Linked DNA regions of Homo sapiens: region 1 is linked to region 2. The links come from fine-mapping of genetic effects on gene expression. A gene starts in region 2. The other region holds a variant in brackets. All regions are shown on one strand. Distances are between the middles of the regions.

Region 1 (10,966 bases), 60 kb before region 2:
AACAAACAAAGAAAACAACACAAAATGAGTTGGGGGGCGGGGAGAAGGAGTTCTCCAAGATTTATATAGGAAGAAGTACAGTGGTATATAGTATACTGCTACTTGAGTTAAAAAGGTTTAAAAGCAAAAGATGAAGATGAAGGAGCAATGCAGATATGTTAGGAAGATTTACATGTTCACTGTACACTCTGTACAGCTTGAATTGCGTTAATCTTTGCATAGACATACACATGTATATATGCGTATATATCAGGTGTTTTAAAAATATATGGGTTTATATATGGGTTTTAAAATAAGACAAATCTGGTTTTGAATCCTGACTCTTCCACTTAATTGTCGTGTAACCTTGGGCAAATTAATTTCCCTGAGTCTCTGATCCTTATTCTTTAAATGAGGCTAATGCCTGCCTTCCTCCCAAGGTGATTTTGAGGATTAAAAGAGGACTCACATTAAGCTCTTGGTATACTGTGAGTTGTGACTATTGAATACAATAAAACCCAAGAACTGCATTGATTCTGAATAGTAGGTGTTGTCCAACAGACTTGAATATATTTTTGAATGTATTTTATGTTTTACAATTGAATGCCAAAAAGAGTTTCTTTTCTTCTTTCCCTGCCTAAATAAATGCTTTGTTTGCCTCTTTGTGTCATCAAATGACAGAGAGTACATGGCGCCAGTTTGAATTCAGGGCAGGCATTTATTGTCCTTGTTACTTGACTGTGACGTTTTTAGGTTTCTTTCCGGAGAACTAGCGTGTCTTCTTCAGACATTTAAGCTGAAATCAAAGTTCTGGACTTTTCTCCAAAGAAAACATTGCTTTATTGCTTCCCCCACCTTAATTATAAAAATCAAAATACATGCACCCATCAAAAAATACAAAGAAAGCAAAAAAATAGCCTGCAGGCGCACCACCCTAGAGGTCAATATTACCTGCATTTCATGAGTATTTATTAGTACTTTTCAATGTTAAAAGCTAAGCATTTAACATTCATTAGTTTATTTAATCCTCAGAACAGTTCTTTAAGGGAGATATTGCTATTAACCATACTTGGTGGAAGAAGAAACTGTGACTTAGTTTCTTGAGATTTTATAGCTAGTAAATGGCAGAGCAGAAATTCAAAGCCAGACCTGCTGAACACCTCAGCTCATGCTTTTAACAATGTCTTTACTCTGTGTTCCCCAAATCTGCATCTGCACATGTGCCTGTACACATAAACATTAACTGTATCATAGTAATTCTGTTTAGTAGCCTTTTTCTTCACTCAGCAATATGTCTTGAATATTGCCCATATCTAAATACCTAGAGGTTTGTTGCCATTTTTAATGACTTCATAGTTTCCCATTGTAGAGATGTGCCATAATCTAACCACTCCCTTATTGATGAGCATTTAAGTGCTTAGAGGTGGTGATGTGACAAACACAAATTGTGTATTACATTGTTGCACATGTATTTAGTTACTCAATTATGTCCTTAAAATAATTCCAAGAAATGGAATTGCTGTTTCAAGGGAGTATTCACATTTAGAGTTTTGGTACTGATTGCCTGACTGCCCTCAAGTATGTTGTGCCAATTTGAGATGCTGTGGCTCTTATATGTTCTTTCTGTAAGGGACATTTTGAAACTTTTTAGACAGTTCACGCAACTGTTTGGCTTACAAAAAAGGTGACGCCCCCCGCCCCCTTTTTTTTTTCTTTTGTGACAGAATCTCGCTCTGTCGCCCAGGCTGGAGTGCAGTGGTGCGATCTCAGCTCACTGCAAGCTCCGCCTCCCGGGTTCACACCATTCTCCTGCCTCAGCCTCCTGAATAGCTGGGACTACAGGTGCCCGCCATCATGCCCAGCTAATTTTTTTGTATTTTTAGTAGAGACGGGGTTTCACCGTGTTAGCCAGGATGGTCTCGATCTCCTGAGATCGTGATCCACCCGCCTCAGCCTCCCGAAGTGCTGGGATTACAGGTGTGAGCCACCACGCCTGGCTGACCTTATGTTTACAAATAATGCCTGTAATAACAACAGAATATATTTCATTACTTTCTTATTTGACGTCTATGCTCTAAATGCTTTTTAGAGCCGTCACTGCATGACTTGCTACATTTACCTTAGAAAGTTAAAAATTCTAGTGCTGTGGACCTAATAGAAACTGTTTTACGAAGCTTCATCATAAATTTAGGATAAGTAGGTCCCGAATTTAGGTCTCCTAGTAGGTCCCCTCATTTATCAATTAAAACATTTTTATTATCTTTTTTTTTTTTTTTTTTTTTTTAAATTGAGACAGAATCTTGCACTGTCGCCTGGGCTGGAGTGCAGTGGCATGATCTCAGCTCACTGCAACCTCTGCCTCCCGGGTTTGAGTGATTCTTCTGTCTCAGCCTCCCAAGTAGCTGAGACTACAACTGCCTGCCACCACGCCCGGCTAAGTTTTGTACTTGTAGTAGAGACGGGGTTTCACCGTGTTGGCCAGGATGGTCTCGATCTCTTGACCTTGTGATCCACCCGCCTCGGCCTCCCAAAGTGCTGAGATTACAGGTGTGAGCCACCACACCCGGCCCATTTTTATTATCTTATATTCATGGTGGTCAGCACAAATGGATAGATAAAATGGGAAAAATGAGTAACCCCTGTATATTTGTTTAATTTCACAAAGCCTTTCCATCTCTCTTTCCCCTTGATTTTATTTTATTTTTTGACTAAGTAATATATTTACATGATTCAAAACTCAAGAGATATTAAAGGGTAAACACACTTTGGGAGGCTGAGGTGGGCAGATCACCTGAGGCCGGGAGTTCAAGAACAGCCTGGCCATGGCGAAACCCTTTCTCTACTAAAAATACAAAAATTAGCTCGGTGTGATGGTGGGTGCCTGCCATCCCAGCTACTCGGGAGGCTGAGGCACAAGAATCGCTTGAATGGGAGGCAGAGGTTGCAGTGAGCCAAGATTGCACCACAGCACTCCAGCCTGGGTGACAGAGTGAAACTCGGTCTGAAGAAAAAAAAAAGGGTATATAATGAAAAGTTTCTCTTCTACTTTTGGCCCTCATCCACCTAGCTCTTTTAGGGAAAGCCAGTGTTGTTATCTGGCAATTGTTACATGGTTCTTGTGAATTCTTTCAGATATATTTTATGCACATATAAGCAAATGTAGAACCATTTTCTCAATATGTATAAAACGTCTTTTTAAAAGTTCTGCAGGACAGTGGTGTTATTTTTCAACCCAAGATGGATAATCTTGTTTTAAAAAGTGTGTAACTCCCTTTGTGAAACTGGCCATCATAGGAACCAGAGACCTAGAATTGGACTTGCTTTCATGGTGTGGTTCAGGGATTGCAAACACGGAGTCCTGATACTTCAAAAACAATTAGAAATAATTGTAAAAAGGAGTAGTGTTGATGGTGATGAGGTGGATACAGAGTAAAAACAGCTGCTTCCCCCGAGAGAAGCCTGTCCAGGGAATTGGTTTAGGCTGCTTAGCAGGGAGTCGCTTTTACTTCTTGCTCGAGTGTTGCAGTGCTTTTCTGATGGCTCATGTGATCTTTGGCTTGGGCTGCATTTCAGATACTCTGAGTATTTGAACCCTGGGCCAGGCAGTTGGCAGGTGGTTGCGTGATCTGATCTTAGAGGACATTGCTTTGGAATGCATTGATTTGAGGTGCGTTAGTATGCACTCTGTGTGCCCACAGGTTGCACCTCCTTGCAGGGTTGTTCCTGGGGAATTGCCAGACCTCTATTTTTTCCCATTTGGAGATACCACATACTCATTAAAGAGAATTTGGAAAATACAGAAATGTTGAAAGAGCAGGGGAAATCACCTATACTATTACCCAAGGTTGACCACTATTGATGTTTTTACGTGTGTCTTTATTTTTATATAATTGTGATTGCATGCAGTGATTCAATTTTGTAAACTGCTTTTTCATTTATGATAAGCATTTTCCATGTCATTACAGAGCCTCGGCAAATGGCATTTAAAAAGATGGGCTAGTATGTCGGGCCTTTCTTAATCAAATCATACATATATGAATTTGGTCATAGACAGAGATGTCTACAAGAGCCAGCCAGGAAGTATAAATGAGCAAAGCATGCTAGATATGAAACAGGAGATAGTGGGGTTGGGGAAGATTCCTATTGCTGCCACTTGGGGTTCAGGTCAAGGGCTGTCAGATATTCCCATGTTTCCAGAGAAGTGGATTTTTTTTTTTAATATGAAATTGTTAGGCCGGGTGCTGTGGCTCACGCCTATAATCCCAGCACTTTGGGAGGCTGAGGCGG[G/A]CAGATCACCTGAGGTCAAGAGTTTGAGACCAGCCTGACCAACATGGAGAAACCCCATCTCTACTTAAAAAAATACAAAATTAGCTGGGCAAGGTGGCGCATCCCTGCAATCCCAGCTACTTGGGAGGCTAAGCGGGGAGAATCGCTTGAACCTGGGAGGCGGAGGTTGCAGTGAGCCAAGATCATGTCGTTGCACTCCAGCCTGGACAAGAGTAAAACTCCGTCTCAAAAAAAAAAAAAAATTGTTGTTTTTTTGAATTAAAAAAAAAAATTCAGGCCTGGTGCAATGTCACACCAGTAATCCCAGCACTTTGGAAGTCCAGGGTGGGTGGGTCACTTGAGGCTGGGAGTTCGAGACCAGCCTGGCCAACATGGCAAAAACCCAGCCCTACAAACAGATACAACAATTAATTGTGCATGGCGGCCTGAGCCTGTAATCCCAGCTACTCAGGAGGCTGAGGCGGAAAATCGCCAGGGAGGCGGAGGTTGCAGTGAGCTGTGATTGCGCCACTGCACTCCAGCCTGGGTGACAGAGTGAGACTCTATCTCAAAAAACAAACAAAACAAAAATTCAGAGAATAATATAAGAAATAGAATCAGCAAAGTAAGGGAAATGTTATAAAGCTTGAAACCTTCCTGTTTTTGTTTTTTAAGAGAAAGGATAAAGTATTACAGATAAAGTTGAAATATCCTTCCCATCTCTACTCCCATTATCCATACTTCCCATTGCCCAGTTTGGGCAGCCACTGTCATAAATTGTTATATATCCTTCTATCTCCCCTCCCCTCCCCTCCCCTCTCTTCCCCTTCCCTTCTTCAGAGACAGGGTCTCACTCTGGAGTGCAGTGGTACAATCGTGACTGACTGTAACCTCCACCTCCTGGGCTCAAGTGATCCTTCCACCTTTTTGGAGTAGCTGTAGGTAGTAGGCCACCACACTGGGCTAATTTTCATTTCTTGTAGAAATAGGGTCTTGCTCTGTTGCCCTGGATGGTCTCAAACTTCTGAACTCAAGTGATCATCCTCCTACCTCAGCCTACCAAAGTGCTGCAGTTACAGAGGTGTGAGCCACTGCACCCATCCTATCCCACTTTTTAGTACTTATACATACATAAATGCAAATCCATGAGCACCGTATTTTTTTGTAAATTCCTAATCGTAACTGTCACTCTGCAGCTTTGTTTCTCACTCAGCCTATTTATTTATCCATGTTAAATCTGTAAGCCTAATTCAGAGATTGGCAAACACTTTCTGTAAAAGGCCAGATAGTAAATATTTTAGTATTGTAGTCCATATTGTCTCTATTGCAACTACTCAACTCTATTCACCTCTATAGTTAATGCAGCAGTAGATAATATGTAAACTAAGGAATATTGCTGTTCTAATATAACTTTGTTTACAAAACCAGGCTCTGGGCCAGATTTGTATCCTGGACTGTAATTTGCTGACCTCTGCTCTAATTTATTCCTTATAACTTGTAACTACTGAATGGTGTGTGTGTATATATATATATATATATATATATTTTTTTTTTTTTTTTTTTTTTTTTGAGACAGAGTCTTGCTTTATCACCCAGGCTGGGGCACAGTGTCGCAATCTCAGCTCGCTTGCAACCTCCGACTCTTGGGTTCAAGTGATTCTCGTGCCTCAGCTTCCTAAGTAGCTGGGATTACAGCGCATCGCAGCATGCCCTGCTAATTTTTGTATTTTTTAGTAGAGAGAGGGTTTCGCCATGTTGGCCAGGGTGGTTTCAAACTCCTGACCTCAGATGATCCTCCGGCGTCAGCCTCCCAAAGTGCTGGGATTATAGGCGTGAGCCACCACACCCAGCCATATTGTCTATAATATGAATATATCATATTTTATTATTCAATTCCCCTATAAATGGATGTCTAGGTTGTTTCTAGATTTTTTTTGTTTGTTTTTTGGGACAGGGTCTTCCTCTGTGACTCAGGCTGGAGTGCAGTGGTGTGATCCTGACTTGCTGCAGTCTTAACCTCCTGGGCTTAAGCAATCCTCCTGCCTCAGCCTCCCAAGTACTGGGACTATAGGCATGTGTCATCACGCCTGGCTAATTTTTAAAGATGGGGTCTCCTTCTGTTCCCAGGCTGGTCTCCAACTCCTGGACTAAGGCAATCCTCCTGCCTTGTCCTCCCAAAGTACTGGGGTTATAGGTGAGAGCCGCCACACTGGCCTGTTTTGTTTTGTTTTGTTTTGTTTTGTTTTGTTTTGTTTTGTTTACAGATAGTGTCTCCCTCTGTCACCCAGGTTGGAGTGCAGTAGGGCTATTATGGCTCACTACAACCTCCAACTCCTGGACTCAAGGTATCCTACTGCCTCAGCCTCCCAAGAAGCTGGGACTACAGGTATATTCTACCACACCCAGCTATATTTTTTAAATGTAAATTTTTTTTTTGAGACAGAGTCTCTCTCTGTCGCCCGGGCTGGAGTGCAGTGGTGCGATCTCCACTCACTGCAAGCTCCGCCTCCCAGGTTCACACCATTCTCCTGCCTCAGCCTCCCGAGTAGCTGGGACTGCAGTCGTCCACCACCACGCCCCCAATTTTTTCTGTATTTTTTTAGTAGAGACAGGATTTCACCGCGTTAGCCACAATAGTCTCCATCTCCTGTCCTTGTGATCTGCCCACCTCGGCCTCCCAAAGTGCTGGGATTACAGGCGTGAGCCGCCGCACCCGCTGATTTTTAAAAATTTTTTTGTAGAGATGGTCTCACTATGTTCCCCAGGCTGGTCTTGAACTCCTGGCCACAAAGAATCCTCCCACCTCGGCCTCGCAGAGTGCTAGGATTACAGGTGTGAGCCACTGCATCCAGCCTGTTTCTAGTTTTTCTACTGTGATAACCATGCTGCAGGAAGCAATCTTGTCCATGTTTTCTTGTGCACATATGCAAAGCTTTTTACTAGGATATACATAGATAGAGAAGTGGAATTGCTGAGGATTTTGTTGTTGTTGTTGTTGTTGTTGTTGTTGTTTATTTTTACTTTTGGAAACAGGGCAAGACCTAGCACCAGGCTGGAGTGCAGTGGTGCAATCATGGCTCACTGTAGCCTTGACTTGGGCTTACGTGATCCTCTCGCCTCAATCTCTCGACTAGCTAGGACCACAGGCAAGCGGCACCATGCCCTGCTAATTTTTAAATTTTTGGTGGAGATGGAGGTCTTCCTATGTTGCCCACGCTTCATGGTCTTTTTTTTTTTTTTTTTTTTTTGAGACAGAGTCTCACTGTCACCCAGGCTGGAGTGCAGTGGCGCAATCTCGGCTCACTGCAGCCTCCACCTCCTGGATTCAAGCAATTCTCCCGCCTCAGCCTCCCAAGTACCTGGGACTACAGGCACATGCCACCACACCCAGCTAATTTTGGTATTTTTAGTAGAGACGAGGTCTCAAACTCCTGACCTCAGGTGATACGCCCGCCTCGGCCTCCCAAAGTGCTGGGATTACAGGTGTGAGTCACTGTGCCCAGCCCATGTTTTATTTATTTATTTATTTATTTTTGAGACGTAGTTCTGCTCTTGTCAACTAGGCTGGAGTGTAATGGCGCGATCTCAGCTCACTGCAAACCCTGCCTCTGGGTTCAAGCAATTCTCCTGCCTCAGCCTCCCGAGTAGCTGGGATTACAGGCGCCCACCACTATGCCCAGCTAATTTTTGTATTTTTAGTAAAGACGGGGTCTCACCGTGTTGGACAGGCTAGTCTTGAATTCCTGACCTCAGGTGATCCACCTGCCTCAGCCTCCCAAAGTGCTGAGATTACAGATGTGAGCCACCATGCCAGGCCCATGTTGTTTTAAATACCAGGTGGGCCAAATGAAATGTTTTAGATAGAATGTAACCAGTTTGTGACCTCTCTCTTACGCTTTCCATAGGAAGCCAATAGTTACTGAGAATCCAATTCATACCTAGTTCTGGACTTTGAGGTGAGACTCTATGACAGCTAGCAAGGTGAGGATGCGTGAATCTAAACACAAAAGAGTTGGAGAACGGTCTGGAAGAGTGTGACTGCCGTGACAAATGTGCATCTGATTTCCTCAGCAGATAAAAGAGTTGAGGTTGGGGAATTACTCAATTTTTCATGTTCAATAACCATTCAAACAGTGGGTGTTAACATTGAATGACAAGTTCTAGCAGAAAAGGTCTTCAGGATGAAGGCGATGAGCTGCTGATCTGTGCTTCCTTCTTTCCTGGCAATTCTGTGAGTTTCTTTAAAGATTTATCACTCTAATTAGACCCACTGGAAGAATAACAAAGGTAATAAAGAAAGAGTATCAGGGCATCCTTCCAAGAAAACTCTCTCCTTTGAGGAAGACCCAGAATAAGATTTTAAGCCTTGGTGGCAGGAAATTAACTTAGTCCATTTTCCTGAAAGAATATGTCAATAATACATGACTAGTTCAGTCTAGCTGGGTGAGTTCAGAAAAGAAATGGTGTTCTGTGTTCAGAGTTGAGGAGATTTAATTAAGGGGACTCATGCTTTGGGAATTCCTTCCTTTTTAAAGATTTTTAAGATTAATGTAGGTCATTATCATTCCTTTGTTTCTATCATTTTGGAGAGCTCAAAAAATATATGGAGCTATTACAAAGCAGCTGAACCTCAAGGTCAGCTTGCTGCAGGCTTTCTTTCTTCTTTCATAGGCTTGGAGCCCCATTGTTTTGACAGGTAAAAGTCGGACAGCTCCGCCTTCTCAGAAGTCTGTAATGCAGAAGAATCAGTCCTCTGCACTGACCTGTCTCCCTGTCCTGCCCTGCCATTCTGTTTCTCTTACTCTATCAGGTCTAGGATCTTGTCTGGCAGGCTCGTGCACTGAAACAGAGGTCTTCCCAGAGGATATCAGGGGCTGGGATTTTCCCTTTGCACCTAGATCAGCTTTGGCAGGCGTCTGTTGAAATGGAGGGAGAGACAGGCCGTAGCTCATGAGCCATTCCCCTGAAATGAAAAGACGCAGGAAACTGGCCATTCTAACATCTGTCTCTTTCTTCCCATCTGGCAAAATTCTAATAGCATGTAGAAGAAGTTTGTCCAACCCGCGGCCCAGGATGGCTTTGAATGTGGCCCAACACAAATTTGTAAACTTTCTTTAAACATTATGAGATTTTTTTTGCAATTTTTTGTTTAACTCATTAACCATCGTAGTGTTAGTGTATTTTATGTGTGGTGTGGCTCAAGACAATTCTTCTTCCAGTGTGGCCCAAGGAAGCCAAAGATTGGACACCCTTGATCTAGAAGATAATGACTACATTCCTGAAGGGCTTCCTTTTGCATAGTTTTCTTTACACGGCTTGAGATTTAGTTCTTATTGAACATCAATTAGGTATTTAGATCTCAATTTAATCTGAATTTTTTTTAGGATGATTGTTACAAACTGAACAATAGAAATGTTATTTTAGAGTGGGCGCTGTGGCTCATGCCTGTAATCCCAGCACTTTGGGAGGCTGAGTGGGGTGGATCGCCTGAGGCCAGGAGTTCCAGACCAGCTTGGCCATCATGGTGAAACCCCATCTCTACTAAAAATGCAAAAATTAGCTGGACCTGGTGGCGGGTGCTTGTGATCCCAGCTACTTGGGAGGCTGAGGCAGGAGAATTGCTTGAACCCGGGAGACACAGGTTGCAGTGGGCCGAGATCATGCCACTGTACTCCAGCCTGGGTGACAGAGCGAGACTCCGTTAAAAAAAAAAAAATGTTAATTTAGGCTGGGTGCAGTGGCTCAAACCTGTAATCCCAGCACTTTGGGAGGCCAAGGCAGGTGGATCACCTGAGATGAGGAGTTTGAGACCAGCCTGGCCAACATCTCTACTAAAAATACAAAAATTAACCATGTGTGTTGGTGGGCACCTGTAATCCCAGCTATTCGGGAGGCTGAGGCAGGATAATTGCTTGAACCTTGGAGGCAGAGGTTGCAGTGAGCCAAGATTGTGCCATTGCACTCCAGCCTGGGTCACAAGAGCAAAACTCAGTCTCACAAAAAAAAAAAAAAAAAGAAAGAAAAAGAAATGTTATTCTAGTGATGTTTAATGCATAAAATTAGGCCTCATCCTTAATCTCTGGAATGACCCTCTGACAAGGGTTTTGGATGAATCTGTATTGTTATTTTAATCTAGCTTTGTATTAGTTTACAAAGTACTTCCACCCTTATAAGCACCTCTTAGTCTCATAATCATCCATAAGAAAGAAGAATTATACCTATTTTTTCAGATTTACAGAAAACGGGTTCAGAGAGGGTAAGACGTCTTCTGGATTTCTTCATTCTAGACAATAATATTTTATTACATGTAACAACTAGAAGAAATATGAAAAGCAACTTTTTGTGTTTCCACTTGCTTAGCAGCAGAACAGTCTGTGAAGGGCAGTGGGGGAATATGTTGATGCTGTCTATTTATTAAGCCACAGCATATATGCCCAAGTGGCCCATCACTGCTTCACCTTCTCCCACCATGGGAGAATGGCAGGAAATAAGTCATTCTCACAACTAAAAAGAATACTGCTGTCATTGTTCTGCATATTTTTTAAAAATTGCAATTGCATATATCCTTTGATTCAGCAATTCCACTTCTAGGAATTGATGCTTACAGATACACTTTCCCACACATGAATGATTGTACGTCCTAGGTTTTTCACAGCAGAATATCAGAAACAGCTGAAGTGCATCTGCAGCAGTGACATAAATTATGGTGCATGCATGCAGT
Region 2 (10,966 bases):
GGCTGAGGTGGGAGAATTACTTGAGCCCAGGAGGTCAAGGCTACAATAAGCTGAGATTGCACCATTGCACTCCAGTGTAGGCAACAGAGAGACCCTGTCTCAAACAAACGAAAAAGACATTTTGGTAATTTAAACACGTTTTCCTCCCTACTGGGAGACTGAACAGCAGGATTTAAACGATGGTGAATGGAAGGTGAGCTATGAGTTAGGGCTGCCCATCACATGGGCAGATTCTGTGACTTAATGACAATAATAAGGTCATGAAGTCTCCTATACAGGGTCTTGCTCTGTCACCCAAGCTGGAGTGCAATGGCGCAACCATGGCTCACTGCAGCCTCAAACTCTTGGGCTCAAATGATCCTCCTGCCTCAGCCTCCTGAGTAGCTGGGACTATAGGCACATGCTGCCACGCCCAGCTGAAGTCATGCTCTCTATCCATGAGCATCTTTATAACTTGCATAGATATATTTGGGTGAAATCCTGTCTTGGTCTTTCCCGATTCTCCCTGAGCAGGTTCCAAACATTGTTTAGGGCTCAAAGGGAAATTAGTCTTCAGAGTTTCTCCAGTAAAGTAATTACGGAGATCGGGTCATTTATTCAACAGATTGGGTGCCTACCATGTGCCAAGACTGTGCCAGGCACTGGGGATATGATGATGAAACCAAAGATGCTAGCATGAACACAATCACTAAACCAAAGTCACACAAATAAATTAAATGTGGGAGGGACAAGGAGAGCTATACATGTACTGATCATCTGCTATGCTGGAAGTTTATTTAGCAAATGTAATCTTATTTAATCATCTGGACCCAAGGGAGGTAATCTGACCTCTCTGAATCTCAGCTTCATGTGAAAACGGGGATAATATTATTGAGAGAGAACATTTGTTACAGGGGCAAACCCTGTTCCAAGGTTTCTTTCACTCAAAGTATAAACAATGAGGCACTTTTTACACTTTAGACACTAAAACTTTTTGGAGGCAAAGAGGGCTGGTATTTAGTGAGTATCTGCTATGTGCTAGGCACTTTACAGAGATCTCATTTAATCTCAGTTCCATTCTTTGAATTTGCTATGTACCCTGCTGTCCAAATGACGGCACTGAGTCAGTGAGAGGTTTCATAACTTGCCCAAGGCCACAGAACTGGATGGAGAAAGACTGCAGAGATTCAAACCCAGGCCTGCTGACATGCAGAGCCAATGAGAATATATTATCTTGCAGTGCAGTTTATGGGATATATGTGTCCCTTTGGGAATTCCTGGGTGTCTGCTGGTGGCCTGTTAACTTGGTTCTTGAATATGCACTTTGCTTATAACTGTGCAGTTTGAAAAGTGACTCATCCCCAAACTAGGCAGGGTTGAGTGTCTGTCCTGTTTATCTTCCACATGCCACCTGCACTAACTTCTGAAGATAATCTATAATAAAAGCACTGTGATTAAAAAACAGAAAAACACACACCAAAAATGTATAGGTTTGTCTGTTGGTGCTTCTGACAAGAAAATAAACTCATGAATCTCATTAACTTTAAAAAAATCACATCTACTTAAGGTTTAATGACTAAAGCCAACTTTCTAACATATCTGTACCGTTCTCTGAACATACTGTTTTCACACTTAACTACGATGTTGTCACTTGTTTCTGTCTGATTCTGCAAGGGCAGAGACCTTGAAATATTCAAATCTGGATTCCCCCATGGTTTGACCCAGCTGAAGTCAGGCAGTGTTCGCTGAAAGAAATAAAGGTGTTTCCATAATGCCTGTATTAGCTTTCTTTTGGGGCTGTAAGAAGTTACCACAGATTTAGTGTCATAAAACAATATTCATTTCTGTTTCACGCTTCTTGTGGGCCCGACGTCTGGATTCCATGGCTCAGCTGATTCTCTGCTTCCAGTCTCACGAGGCTGAAATCAAGGTGTCTATATTCCTTTCTAGAGAGTTGGGGAGGGGGTATAATCTGTTCCCAAGTTCATTCAGCTTGTCAGAATTCAGCTCTGTGAGGTTGTAGGACTGAAGTCCCCATTTCCTTGCTGGCTCTTGGCAGGACTTCCTCTGAGCTTTTGGAGGCTGCCTGGATTCCCTGGCTTGTGGCCACTTTCAAAGCCAGTAACAGTGGGTTGAATTCCTCTCATACTTTGAATTTAATTCCTCTGCCTCATCTCTCCAAAACATCTCTTTTGCCTCCCTTTTGTGCTTTTAAGGGTTCATGTGATTACACTGGGCTCACCCATATAATACGGAATCATCTAATTTTAAGGGCTTTATTTCCATTGGCAAAATATCTTTTGCCAAAGAATGCTGGCTGGTAATCCCAGCACTTTGGGAGGCCGAGATGGGTGGATCACCTGAGGTCAGGAGTTCAAGACCAGCCTGGCCAACATGGAGAAACCCAGTCACTACTAAAGATACAAAAATTAGCTGGGCATGGTAGCGCATGCCTGTAATCTCAGCTACTTGGGAGGCTGAGGCAGGAGGATCGCATGAACCCAGGAGGCGGAGGTTGCAGTTAGCCAAGATCACGCCACTGCACTCCAGCCTGGGTAACACAGCGAGACTCTGTCTCAAAAAATAAATAAATAAATAAATAAAAAAGCAACATATTCACAGGTTCCAGGGACTAGGACTTGGACAGTTTTGGGCAAGCGGGGAAGACATTATTCTGTCTACCACAGTACCTGTATTAAACATGTAAATTTCAGTTATTCCCTGTAGGTCAGAGGGCAGTAAAGCTACTTCAGAAGACATCGGAAAGAAGCCAAATGACTTGCCAAAGAGTACTGTATCAGCCGTAGATTGAAAAAAAAGAAGTTAAAAATCCTTTGTAAAAAATCAAGGCAAACAGTTTTTTGAGGGACAGTAGTTCCTCCTTTCTCTCAGGGTAAAGCTAGAGAGATTTTTAAGAGGTGTCTTATTCTAACTTGCAGTCTTTTCCCTTTGTAGGATTTTGCTTACCGGACTCACAAGTTTTCTGTGACCAGTATTAGAAGCAGAAAACACTGAACCCCTTGGCGTTAGAGTTTGGGCTACACCATAATGGTCTCCTATCAATACTGGCTCTCGCTACGTGTTAACATTAGGGAGTGGAGAGTGTGTTTCCTCACCCAGGGAAACCGTTTAAATGTGGCCACTGATCCTGCCTTCATAGTTTTTAAGAGCTGGCATCAATCCAACTCCGGACGGACTCTAGAAATGTTTCTGGACAACGACTGAACCTATAGTTACAGAAAACCTATGTGCTGGGCGCTCTGAATTTCATTTCAGGTTCTAAAACTAAGGCTCAGAGAGGCTAAGTATATTGCCTATTGTTTCTCAGCTGGTAATAACAGCTACCATTTATTAAACATTTGCTCTATGCCAGGCGCCATATCATACGGACCTGATAATGTCAAGATCTCCCTTCACATCCTCTTCCAATCTGTCAAGAATTGTATGTTAATTTTAATTCCAATAATGCCATGAAATACAAGACAAATGCAGATCAGAAAACTGAGGCTCAGAGAGGTTGAGTGGACAGCCAGGGAGTGACTCAGCCAAGATTCCAGTCTAGGTCCGCTGGACTCCAGGGCCTGAATTCTCTCCAGGGTACTGCCTCTAAAAACGCCCTCAGGTGCATTCTGGTCAGTATGGCCCCAGAGTCCAAGTTCTTTACACGACCCGTCAACATATCACCAAGTTCCTAAGAACGCTCTAGGCTGCTGGTGCAGGCTCTGCAAATACACAGCGGCCTGAAAGCACAGGAAGAAATGAAGAACCGTCTAAGTCCATCAGCCGTGGAATAACCGTTTTACTGGTATGAGGGTCTTTTTGTCTCATTATTATGTGGCAGTGAGTCATTTAGAGGTGACCAAAAGGGAAAGTCCTGCCTCTCGTCCCCTACGAGAAGTGTAGGTAAGAACCGTTTAGGCGAGGAGAAGCACGAAGTGGGAACTGCGAGTCGAGCTCCCCATCCTCACTCCCCACCCGCACCCGCCAGGAGGTCCTGAAGCAAAAAGCACCGAAGGGGTTAAGGGTGGCCGGGGGAGCCCAGCCACCGCCCCTTCCCAGCATCGCCTCCCAGAATCCCGCAGGCCCCCAGCCAGTTCTCGCACCTCGCGAGACTCCACCCAGCCCCTTCCCCGAACAGCGACCCGTCCCCGTTCCTAGCTGAGGTCGGTGCTAGGCGGAGGACGCGAGAGGGAGAGCGGAAGGGGGCCGCCGGGCACGCCGGGAAGTGTGGTCCACGCGCTTCACGCGGCCATATTCTTCCGGAGCGGGGGAGGCCAGAGAGGCCGTTGGGACTACGACTCCCAGGCGCCCTTTCGGTTTGTTTTTGTTCAAAAAAAAAAAACCCCACACTCCCCCTCCTCACTCTTCACACACACTCACACACACCCACGGCAGACACGCACGCACCCGGGCGCCGAAGGGAAAGCCGCGTCTCGCCCTCCCGCCCCGCCGTCGGTCCTGTCTCAGTCCCTCAGCAGAGCGGGAAAGCGGAGGCCGGAGCCGTGACCTCTGACCCCGTGGTTATGCGGAGCCGCCGCATTCCTTAGCGATCGCGGGGCAGCCGCCGCTGCCGCCGTGGGCGACTGACGCAGCGCGGGCGCGTGGAGCCGCCGCCGCCCCTCCCCCACCGCCGCTCTCGCGCCAGCCGGTCCCCGCGTGCCCGCCCCTTCTCCCCGGCCGCACCCGAGACCTCGCGCGCCGCCGCTGCCACGCGCCCCCCCCACCGCCGCCGCCGCCCCAGCCCCGCGCCACCGCCCCAGCCCGCCCAGCCCGGAGGTCCCGCGTGGAGCTGCCGCCGCCGCCGGGGAGAAGGATGAAGGACAAACAGAAGAAGAAGAAGGAGCGCACGTGGGCCGAGGCCGCGCGCCTGGTGAGGCGGACAGCCGAGGGGGGCTCCGTGGGGCCCGGGGTGGGGGGGGCTCGCCGCGCACCCCCCCACTGGGGGGGGAGGGGCAAGGCCCTGCCCACCGCGGGAGGGGGCGGGGCCATCTTCCTTTAAGAACGGGACAGCCCCGCAAGGCGAGGGGTGGGGAGCGCTCCGCCGGGATGGGATGTGGCGCCTTTTTCCGCTCGCCCTCGCGCCCCCCCCGCCCCGCGCAGCTAAATTCCGGCGGAGGGGCGAGCTGGCAGGCCGGCTCCTCCCACTCTGGGCAGCGGGGTCCCGCGTCCCCTCCCCCACTATTTGGCAGCGTCTGGGGGTCTGGGGCAGCTTCGTTCATTCACCCGGGGGAGTTGGGTTTCCGGGAAGGGTCGGAAGCTCCTCCCTCGCTTCCTGGTGGGTAATGGGGTGGTGCCTTTGACTCCGGGGGTGGAAAAGCGACCCCACATTCAAGGACGCCAATGGCATGTTGAGCTTTCCCAATCTAAACCAGGTGCGTGGAGGGAAGCAAGTGCTTACTCCCAGCTTGAACCCTGAGCAGCGGTTCTCTAACTTTAGTGTCCTGTGGGCGACACCTGGGAGGCGGTTAGGAACGCTACTCCTAGGGCCCTTCGTAAGACCTGCTGAGCCTCAGGGTCTGGGATAGAGCCTGGGAATCTGCGCTTTCACCAGCTTCCCAGGTGATTCAAACGCAGTGGCTCACGGACCCCACTTTGAGAAACGCAGACTGGGCTGTTTGCCTTCAGAAGCTGGACTGGAAATTGGTATTTTGAGGAGAACTGAATCCACTTTGCAAAGAATGTATGTTGGACAAAGACAAAGTATCTCTGTTGGGAGACGTTGTTCACTGAGGATTTAGCAAGGGAGAGCGTAACTTGAGTGTTTGAAGCCGTCTCGTTCAACCGATGGGGGTTGTGAATTTTGTGTTCAGAGCGTCAGAGGACTTGCAGGTGAAATAGCTTCCTTTTGGATTACTCCCACAAAGCTCAGACACTTTGAGACATATTCGGGTAATTATCTGCTGATACCAGTAGTAACAGGTTATACTAAGATGTCAGTTCCTAAGATCTGTCACACAGCGAGGTTGTGGTGCGGATAGCATAAGTGTCTCTTGACACTGTAGTTTATATGTAATGGTTGTAATTCAGTTTTAATGATGAGTGAAGCTCAGACTTAATTTTCTCTCTTATTTTGAAGTGAGTTTTCTGCTTCAAAGGTGTTGTGCAAAAAAAAAAAAAATAGACTGTATTGGGGGGGTTGACACAAACCTGAAGTACACCTTTTTCTTTCTCGAAGTCTGTAAAAGTTACAGATTTATAAAAACTGAAGGAATTTGGGCTACAGAATTTTCATTGGTGCTTGCTATCCTCTTCCCTAGTCATTTGTTGCCCAGGGAACAAAAATAGCAATTGTTTGTATGCTGAAGTTTTGTGCTTCAGTTTATTTTGGCCTGGCATGTGAAGTTTGAAGATTTTGAGGTTCCGAAATATTTTTTTTCTGATTGAGTCAAAATTGGAAGCTTGGGCTAGTTTTCAGGATCTTGTAGAAATTTCAGGATTTCTCTAACGGTTCTGCACCTGGAAACAAATATAGGCCTGATGGGGAGTGGGAGAGAGCTCTCGTTCTCCTCCTCGACAATGAGTTTTGTGTGTTCATTGACATTCTCCTTGGCGTTCCTGTTATGCGGGTGTTTATGACCCTGGGCACCCAAGGAAATTTGCTTGCCAGAGTTTTACTTGTTAGAGGTAGGTGAAAGTACTTTTAAGTCTTGTGTTATTTATGTCTTGACAGAATTATGAAATCTGTTTGTCTCAAAGTTCTGTTGGCTCTTACTAGTTGACTTTAGGAATTTGGGGTCCACTGTTAAGTCTCTTTAGATTCTCGAATTTACCGTGGTCTGAACTTCAACATCGAGGTTGCTATTTCTGTTTTATCATTGACTCAACTTCAAGCCAGGTTATCAGGGTAAGTTATTCCTCTTTTTCTTCTAAGGCTCTTCATTAAAAATAGTAATATGAATAGGAATTACTTTGTTTGTTTGTTTTTCGTTTGTTTGCCACCACACCCGGCTAATTTTTTATTTTTAGTAAAGATGGGGTTTTTCCATGCTGGTCAGGCTGGTCTCGAACTCGTGACCTTAGGTTATCCGCCCACCTTGGCCTCCCAAAGTGCTGGGATTACAGGCGTGAGCCACCGCGCCCAGCCTATGAGTAGGAATTACTTTGTGGTGCTGTTATACATGTGAAAAAGGATTTGCGAGACTTTGGGAGTCTGAGGTGGAATAATCACTTGAGGCTAGGAATTCGAGATGAGCCTGGGCAACATAGACCCGGTCTCTACAACAACAGCAACAAAATGAGCTGGGCATGGTGGTACACACCTGTGGTCCTAGCTACTCAGGAGGCTGAGGATAGCTTAGGCCGAGGAGTTGGAGGCTGCAGTGCCCAATGATTGATTGTACCACTGCACTCCAGCCTGGGTGATAGAGGGAGACCCTGACTCTAAAAAAATAATGAGGCTGGGCGCTGTGGCTCACGCCTGTAATCCCAGCACTTTGGGACGCCGAGGTGGGTGGATCACAGGGTCAGGAGTTCTAGACCAGCTTGGCCAACAAGGTAAAACCCAGTCTCTACTAAAAATACAAAAATTAGCCGGGTGTGGTGGTGCACGCCTGTAATCCCAGCTACTGAGGGGGCTGAGACAGGAGAATCACTTGAACTTGGGAGGTGGAGGTTGCAGAGAGCCAAGGCCATGCCACTGTCCAGCCTGGGTGACAGAGCAAGACTCGTCTCAAAAAAAAAAAAAAAAGAAAAAAAGAAAAAGGACTTGTTGAGAATGTGATATGCAATTTGAGTATCTTGTGTGTGTTTTTTGTTTTAGAATTTTCCATTTCTTTGAATGGGACTGGATGGTAGGTGAGGGGGAACTTTTTAAGAGTCCCAGGCCGGGCACGGTGGCTCACGCCTGTAATCCCAGCTCTTTGGGAGGCCGAGGCAGACGGATCACCTGAGGCCAGAAGTTCGAGACCAGCCTGGCCAACATGGTGAAACCCCGTCTCTACTAAAAATACAAAAATTAGCCAGGCATGGTGATGGTGCATGCCTGTAACCTCAGCTACTCGGGAGGCTGAGGCAGGAGAATCACTTGAACTCGGGAGGTGGAGGTTGCAGTGAACCCAGATCACACCACTGCACTCCAGCGGCGACAGTGAGACTCTGTCTCAAAAACAAAACAAAAGAAAAAACCAGTCCTCTTAATGTTTAAAAAAAGTTGCTGTAACACTGTACTGGAGAATTTGTGAGAGCGTACACTGGACTGAGAGAAACTTGACTAGGAGGGAACGTAGGACAGTTGATTAGAACACCTGAACACTTCTCTTTGGGCAGGTGAATTTGGAGTGCTTGCAATGGCAATTGTATGCACTTCCATGGGAACGCTTTCAGATTGCTCCTGACCCCACTCAGATTGGTGACTAGAGTGTTACTGGGAATCCTTTTAAAAATTGTTTTTGTAGGCTGTGCGCGGTGGCTCACGCCTGTAATCCCAGCACTTTGGGAGGCCGAGGCGGGCGGATCACGAGGTCAGGAGATCGAGACCATCCTGGCTAACACGGTGAAACCCCATCTCTACTAAAAATACAAAAAATTAGCCAGGCGTGGTGGCGAGTGCCTGTAGTCCCAGCTACTCGGGAGGCTGAGGCCGGAGAATGGCGTGAACGCGGGAGGCGGAGCTTGCAGTGAGCCGAGATCGAGCTACTGCACTCCATCCAGCCTGGGCGACAGAGCAAGACTCTGTCTCAAAAACAAACAAACAAAACAACAACAACAAAAAAACCTTTCGTAGAGGAAAGAAGATTCTTAAGAATTTCAGTATAGTGTACCCCAGGAGATTGATTTTTGCAGATGTTAATTATGCTGTTGAAAAATAGTCTTTCTTTCACACATTTTGTAGTATTGTCTTTTCTAGGTGTAAGAAGTAGACCTTATGTGGTTGAGTGGATATAAATCCTCCAACTTGTTATAAACAGTTTGTTTGGGAGAAATAGCCAAGGGGATTTCCCTTTAAATCGAGGACGCTAAATGGATTCTCCCTGGCTTCGAGAAACTCTTTGTTGTATGCTTTATCTTTTACTTTGATTCATGACTGACCAGTTCTTACATCAAACATTTTTTTCCCCTTTGAAGTAAGAGAAGAGATACTTAAAAAAAAAAATGTAGTCTAGAAAGAGACTAGGAATAGAACACTGCTGACTTGTTCTTATACCAAGAGCTGGAGGCATAAACAGTTTTAATAAAAAAGAATACTTTGTATCTTTTGATGTAACTTCCCTTTAGAGATTCTGTTTCCCCTGTCTTAAATTCTCAGGCTATTTCTGATTGCTGTTTAAATAATTGGTAGTTACTATTTGAGTCATGCTTCTTAAAAAAAAAAGATATAAAAATTCGCCAGCTCAGCTTTCATTTAATTAGTATCAAAGAAATGTTATCTGTGGCAGTGAACATTAGTAGCTTGTTCCAGGGTTTATTGTAGGTTTGTTCAAGTCAGTACTGCCCATCTTGGCACTTAGGTTCTTGGAATACAGAGGTGGATAAGGTTTGCCCCTCAGGGCTTATGGTCTTCTGGGGATGAAGAAGGTCCAGACGCAGGAACAGAATTTTACTACAGTCATGATACGTGTTATCATAGTTGTATAAATCATAAACAGATATCCCAGTTGCTGCCTCTTGTCTAGTCATAGTTTCTCCTTTCACTCTCAACTGTCCTGGTTTGGAAGATAATTGTATGTGTTATGAAACAATGGGAACATTGAAAAGAGACATTTACCTCTGCCTGGCAGAGATCAGGGAAGGCTTCCTGGAGGAAGGTGCTTTCTGAGCTGAATCTTGAAGGGTAACTAGGAGTTAGGCCAATCACAGAGGGCATAAGCAGGAGCTGGTGACAACACATAGCAGGAGAGAAAGAGTCAGAGTGGGTGAGAGGGAGTGTGTGTATTTGCAACGTGTGGGAATTAGGTATATCTACAAATTATTGGAACATAAAGTTTGTAGAGTGTCACTGTGGATGGGTAGAGAGGCAGAGACCAGATTGTGAGGGTTCCATATGCCAGGCCAGTGAGCACCTACTCTGTGCCAGACATTGTAGGCATTACTTACATTGTCTCTAATCTGTCCAACAACTCGAGAGGAAGACATCAGTATCCTTCAAAAGAGAACCTAGGTTCAGGTTGGGTTGTAATTGCCCCAGTTTAGAATGTAAAAATTTGAATCTAACTCTAGATCCTGTTCTTTACCGGTGGGCCAGTGGACTTTGGAAGCTTCAGCTTTTGCAGTATGTGATTAAGGAGCTGTTGAAGGATTTTATTTGCTTTCTATTATTATTATTACTATTTTTTGAGACAGGGTCTCACTCTGTCACCCTGGCTGAAGTGCAGTGGTGCCATCACAGCTCACTGCAGCTTCCACTTCCTGGGCTCAGATGATTCTCCCACCTCAGCCTCCTGTGTAGCTGGGATTACGGGCATGAGCCACCATGCCCATCTAGTTTTTTGTATTTTTTTGTAGAGACAGGGTTTCACCATGTCGCCCAGGCTGGTTTTGAACTCCTAGGCTCAAGCAATCTGCCCACCTTGGCCTCCCAAAGTGCTGGGATTACAGGTGTGACCCACTTTACCCAGCCATATATATTTTTTAAATTCTTTAAAGAGATGAGGTTTCACTGTGTTACCCAGGCTGGAGTGCAGTGGCTATACACAGGCACGATCATAGTGCACTAGAGCCTGGAGCTCCTGAGCGCAGCAAGTGACCCTCCTGCCTCAGTCTCAGCTGAGACTATAGGTGTGCACCACCGTGCCTGGCCTGTTGAAGGATTTTAGAGCTGAAAGTGATGAGGGCAGGTTTGCTTTGCTGGGTTGACCTCAGTCTATAACATGTAAGTTCTACCAGAGCAGGGATTTGGTCTTGTTTACTGTGAATCCCTAGAATTGTGTCTGGCACAAGGTACGTGTTCCATGTGTTTGTTGAATGAAGGATGACAACAGAGTCAGAATGGATTTGAGGAAAGCAGGACTGGATGGAGGGATAAATATTAAGAGGCTGTTGTGTTGGGTCA

What was found. PIP is the estimated chance that this variant, and not a neighbour inherited with it, causes the effect.
Region 1: its variant is the best candidate, but not a certain one, in a credible set for the expression of ASXL1 in whole blood (TOPMed, PIP 0.74).

The regions. Positions count from the first base shown.
Region 1 is chr20:32,293,615-32,304,580 of GRCh38, forward strand. All of the region lies in intron 1 of KIF3B (kinesin family member 3B), which reads left to right. Among named protein-coding and RNA genes, the nearest start is that of KIF3B, 21 kb to the left of the region's middle. The variant G/A (reference allele first, on the strand shown) is at 4,267.
Region 2 is chr20:32,353,984-32,364,949 of GRCh38, forward strand. ASXL1 (ASXL transcriptional regulator 1) reads left to right here and starts at 4,348. Exons shown (of 13, transcript NM_015338.6): 1 at 4,348-4,849. The coding sequence starts at 4,793. RefSeq lists silencers at 1,580-1,649, 4,598-4,647, 4,888-5,047.